2 separate regions of the Homo sapiens genome follow, and region 1 is linked to region 2. The links come from fine-mapping of genetic effects on gene expression. A gene starts in region 2. The other region holds a variant in brackets. All regions are shown on one strand. Distances are from middle to middle.

Region 1 (2,918 bases), 41 kb after region 2:
TATCTTTCCTTATAATCTCGTGAAGAGGAGACCATGGCTGAGGGCTTCATCCAGAGGGAAGTGGCCACAGAGGTGAACTGCAGACTTGGCCGCCGTGACCATCTCTCTTGTTTGTTTCTGAGTGTGCAAGGCGTTTCTCCAGGATTTCCCCTCAATTTAAGGGAGGCGAGTGCAGGTTTTGTCTGTTTGCTCACGCGGCCTTTCCAGCTCTCGGATACTTGTTGGCCGGGGGCAAGTCTTCCTCTCATGGCCCAGATGGAAGTCATTGTGAAGTAGGTCCCTTTTCCCCGCCCACCATGGAATCAGCCACGGGGCTGATCTGAGATGCCAGCTGGGGAGAAAACTACGGTTCTGCTGGGAATTCTCAACGTGATTCACCTGTGTGTCCTCAGTGTGAACCACTGGCTGATGCAGGGAGAGCGGAGAGACTGTGGGAGGGGCGGCAGTGGACTTGTTTTCCCATGAGGCTTATTTCAGACGGCTTTTAAATACCGTTCTTCTTCCCAACGGACACAGGCACTTTTAGATCTGCCATGGGGCAAGAACTGCTGTTTACAACACTCAGCATGTTAGTTCTGAAACTGAAATGGCCCATCAAGATAGGTTTCAGGTAGCAGCTTATCTTTTACAATATCATCTACAGTTGGCTTAAGTATTTTGAAGCTACATATATTCATCTTAAAACTGTTTCAACTTTTTCTTCACCACAAACAACTGTATTTTAGTTTGCGTATTGTAATACCTCTGGGCCTGGAGCTTGGACTGTCCATGGACCTTTGAAGTTAAAGGCATAGGAAAAGATGCTGAGGCTGTGCCCTGGATGGGGGATCATTCCCACAATGGTAAAACTGCCACCCACACTTTCCTGTGTTTGAGTTTTCTGTGACATTTCATTATTATATACCCTGCACAAAGTAGGTATTCATCTATCTGTGCTTTTAAAAAGATTGTCCTGTTGGAAAAGATTTGGGGTAACCTGAATTTCGAAGAGTCATGTAGTCCGTCTTATGCTACGTCCCACCCAGACTCACACAGTTTCACAGAGAAAAAAATGACATAGTAGAGATAGTGTGTAGGATACATGTATAAGGTCAGTTATATTTATTCTATCCCGTGTTTATACCCAAACTCCCATATGTACACTCTATTAATAGTGAGAAAGAGTATTGACTCTGAGTTTTAAGATTAAAAACACAAAAAACCCATTATAATATAATCCAGTTTATGGAAATTCTGCTAAGGTGGCAAAATTACTGTGCACTTTGTACAGATTGTCCAGAGGGGTGTACAGCAGGATAGCTTCCTACCTGCTCTATGAAAACCCTAGTTCCTGACATGTGCTGTGGAGTTGTGTTTTAAAGGAAGCACCTGATACAAAACTGACCACCTGTTGGGAACCAGTGTGTCAGTGTCCTTCTTGAAACATGGCTCCCAGAACAAAAGTCCACGTTTCCTGTGTGAACTGACCGGTTCTGGGTGCATGGCGAGGGGCAAGCCATTGTCTGCCCATCTTCCTTCACGGTGAGCACCAGAATGACATCGGCGTTTTCAGCAGCTATGTGCCATGGCTTATCCCAGCCTGTGAGCTGCCCATCCATCCAAGGTGCCCATCCACCCAAGCTGCCCATCCACCCAAGCTGCCCATCCA[T/CCCAAGCTGCCCATCCAT]CCAAGCTGCCCATCCACCCAAGGCCGTGGCTGCAGCACCTGTCACAGTGCCTGGTCCCCGGGTTAATGCTCTACAAATACTTGTTGAATGGATCAAAAACACTTTCACCTAAATGTTCCACATGCTTCTCCCAACAGCTACTGTTTGGGAGACCGGGCTCCCCTTGAATCTTTTCTTTTTTAAAATTCAATGATAGTACTTTCTTCTCTAAAACATCGATTGTGTTAGTTTATCCCAGGGTTTTAACCTGTTAAGGGCTTTACAAAGTGTTAATTTTGTACTTCAGCATATGCCGCCTCTGGGTCTCTGACTTAGCCATGCTCCTGACGATGTGCCAGGCATGTCTTCATTTTCCACCGTAACCTGCATTTTCTGTGTGTACTTCTCCAGCTTGCTGATAGGGAGTGCTTGCAAGCGCTTCACTGAAATGAGGAACTTATGTTTCTAAGCCCGCGTCTATCGGGGCCTTTTTCACAGATAGAAAGTGCTTTTCCTTAGGGAAATGGTGCTGCCTGTGAATGCTTCCTGCTGCTTTTCTAGCGTGTGTGCACAGATTCCATTCATAACTTCAGGAGGCACCTGGTTGCATGGATAAGGACACCCTTAGAGATGGCAGGCACCGGCTCAAATCTCAAAACCCACTTTTCCTGGTTTGCTGAGAACTTCCTCCCAGATTTCTCACCTGATGCCCATAATGAGGTTGTGAGGGGGTGAAGAACAGGGATTGTGACTTTTTCTATTCCATATATGAGCAAAAGAGTTAAACATGGTAAATTCTTCACACGGGTTTAAACTTGCTTGTGGTCACCTCAGAAAGGACACAGAGTTCTCCCAACTCCTAAGCCAACAGTCTTCCAAGCCTTGGCTCCTCTGGTTTTGACAGCCAGTGTGCTGACAACTGTATTTAAAAGTCAGGTCGGAAACCTGTGGGGATTGTGGGCATCGGGGGAGGGGTTATGTACCCTCCACCTGTCTATCTCTTGTCCCAAACACTGAAAGCAGCAAACCAGAACAACATGGAAATGTTCTCCATCTTATATCTGTTTTGAAAAATCCTGTCCTAAGTTTTATCTGTCTGAATGGACAATAATCAAATGGTCCCTCCACCAGCAAGGGCAGGGCAGGATTCGTGGTTATACATTTATGAGAAGCTGTCAGCAAATCAGAAGAGCTGAACATCAGTTCCCAAGAACTATGGGCCCGGAGGGGTAAACTAGCTTTCCGGCTAACTGCCGTGATTCCTCTGGCACTGCTGTGATACGCAGGGAG
Region 2 (2,915 bases):
TTGTTCTCAGGGTTTGGAACTTTATTTATTTTATTAAAAGAAAAGCAAAGAGCTTGATCTGTGATTATTTTAACCACTGCATCTCAGTAGCTTTCTTAACTTGTTTTCACATAGTAGCACACTGATTCCAGAAAATACATCACAGAAGTTATTTAATAAAAAATAATTCTGTAGCAAAGGAAGAAAAACACTCCCAAAGAATTTTTTTTTCAGTTATATGAATAGGTAAAAGTGAAAATTGTCTATTGTGTCATCCAAGGAAAATCAGCTCTTTTTTAAAGAAAGAAATGTACATATTTCAATCCTTCTAAAATCAAGAATTACAATTTTTTTTTCTTAAGCATAACAAAGCATACACTACAGGGGCCTAAAGTGACTCTCAGGAGCTACCATTATGCCCTCTATTTTAGTAAGTGTGAAAAATAACTTTATAAGGCCAGAAGACCGCAATGTGTTTGCTACTTACCCCAAAGGAGTTCTTTCCCTCTCGAGATGAAGGGGAAGAAGGCTTCTGTGCAGGCCATAACCAGCGTGACAGACAGCACAGCGAGCGCTCTCATTCTAAAATTAACGGAAGGAGACAGAGTATGTAATCAAGCACTGACAAGGCCATGGGAACCGCTGTGTCCTTGTCTCCCTGCTGAGGGGCTCCCTCCACTGACTCCACGCAGCCTCTACCGCAGTGAGCGACCCTCACAGGCCTGGGGTCTGCGAGACCAGAGTCGCCGTCCATGTCAGGAGGTTACAGAAACTGCAGCGCTGAGCAGGCCTCCCAGGCCCCCATTATTCAAAAACAGAGTTTTTATGTTGGCAGCTCCAGTTGCCAATATATCTCAGTAATAACCTATTTAAATTTTTGGTAATGTCAAATAGTGTAACAGTACTGGGAATAATTATTGGGAATGAAAAAAATCTGTTTCCCCTAATGCATCTATGTGGCAAAAAGTGAGTACTATTAGAAATTTAGTCTTTATAAAAGTGATAAATAAAACCCCTAAATGCCTATTGAATTTCTTAAAGCATTCTTATGTCCATAAAATGATTTTAGAATTCTAGTTGTTAAGACAAAACAGAAGATTCAAAATTCATCATTTCTACTTTCAAATCCTTGTTTTCTTCTCTTAGGCTTTCTGTGGCTATTTTTGAGCCACTAATTTTGTTAAGCAGGATAGCACCAGTGAGTCCATGCTGACAGGAATGTGTCTCAGTAGACGGTGATCTAGGAATCGACCCTACAGGACTCACATGTTCCAGCGGAGGTCATTGCAAACAGCACTCATCAGTCAGTCAGTCAGCTTTGCTGAGAGACGCCACCCATACCTGCTATAATGGCCCAAATTACAGCCACTCTTGGGCCACTTTACAAGTTCCAATGATGAATTTCTCTTAGAAAATGGAAAAATAAAAAGCTTTACAACCTGACCTTTTTTCCTCTTCTCAGCCAACTGCACTGCTGAGTAATTTTCACGGCTGTAACTCTTCTGAAATGGGCGCCTTAATTGCCTTCCAGGGACTTGGTTACCCACCTTATAAACTGACTCCGCGCTTGGATAGCCCGTCAAGATGCTAGGAAGTCGAGTGGCGTCCGTTCTTCGTGGGGACAGAATGTCTGCGGGCTTTGTTGTGTTTGCGCCGGGCCTCTTGTGTGTCCTGACTGGTCAGAAACAAAGTGCCATGTCATCGGGGTCCACATGCAGTCCAGCCTCTGGCCGAATGAGTTAGGAAGAAGAGGGGAAAAATTATACAGGGAGAAAGAATAAACCAACTAAATCCAGACTTGTGACACTTGCATTTTCCTCCCTCTTACTTTCACAGTTAAATACCCTGTGAAAAAGGGGCTGTTAATCTTCCGAGGATTGGGTTGGGTGCAGCTCCCAGGCCCACCGATGACTCGCTCTACAACTCTGAGCCTTTTGCTTCCTGTCCCCAAGCCCCTAGTTTTCTTATCACTAAGAGGTGAATAAAGTACACTTTTTTCCAATTTGTTGAGGTGAAAAATGAGCACAGTTCAGTGTGTGTTCACCAGCATGCATTCTCCCCTCAATCCTCATCATGCACCCATCAAAAGAGTCCCCACAAAGACAGAGATGTTCTGTAGGAAGGTCACCATGACTGCATTCCGAACACTGGGAGATGACATGTTTTCATGGGTGATCTGCTTTCAGGCTGTATCTCATCATGAAAATGATAAAATAACACATCTTCAATGACCTGCTCCTGAGACTTGGAGCCTCTTCATGCCCCCGGAAGTCCTATGGGTTTCTAGTTTGTGAAAATCATCTTCATCTTTCTCCTTTTCTTTCCCTTCTCCAAATGTGACTGATGCTTCCTCTAGGTAATTTGAAACCAAATGCTAAAACACGATGCAAAGGCTTCAGAACATTAATCTTTGTTAGAAGATGTTCTGAAGCCCAAGAATGTGATGATTTGCCTTTAACATTCTCCCCTCAATCCTCATCACTCACCCCTCAAATGGGTGAAGATAACAAATGAGTTAGACAAGCTCTGAAGAGCAGGGAGGAGATCAGCCAACAGTGATATAATCCCCCCACGCACCCTGAGAATGGTCACTAGGAGGGTGGGGTTTGGATAGAGAGGAAGGACCAGACTCGGTGGCTCATTAAAGAGGATTCCATGGCTCAATGATGAGTTACTGTTGGGAACAGAAGAAAAGCACAGAGCCTCTGAGGATTCAGCCATCCTCGGTTTGATGCCTAAGCAAGTGAAAATCTCATGTACTGGCCCTAGGAAGGCCAGAGAAGAAAGGAGACTGGCTGTGACAAGCAAAGGAGCAGCAGACTCAGGCTTGGAATTGTGTTGGAGGTGCCCGTGGCACAGGCGGGCAGTGAGCTCTTGGGCATTTGGAAATGTACTTTCAGCTGTTGGGTGAAGTCCAGCTTAAAAAGACACATTTG

Direction of the effects. Alleles are on the strand shown, and positions count from the first base shown. SD is a standard deviation of normalised expression in the study named.
For the expression in fetal neocortex of the gene that starts at base 1,506 in region 2, T is the high allele of the variant in region 1 and CCCAAGCTGCCCATCCAT is the other (moderate effect, 0.59 SD a copy in Walker 2019).

What was found.
Region 1: its variant is fine-mapped to the expression of TPO in fetal neocortex (Walker 2019, PIP 0.95).

The regions. Positions count from the first base shown.
Region 1 is chr2:1,371,261-1,374,178 of GRCh38, reverse strand. It overlaps a transcript of TPO not described here. Among named protein-coding and RNA genes, the nearest start is that of TPO, 41 kb to the left of the region's middle. The variant T/CCCAAGCTGCCCATCCAT (reference allele first, on the strand shown) is at 1,649.
Region 2 is chr2:1,412,054-1,414,968 of GRCh38, reverse strand. TPO (thyroid peroxidase) reads right to left here and starts at 1,506. Exons shown (of 17, transcript NM_001206744.2): 1 at 1,424-1,506; 2 at 467-561. The coding sequence starts at 560.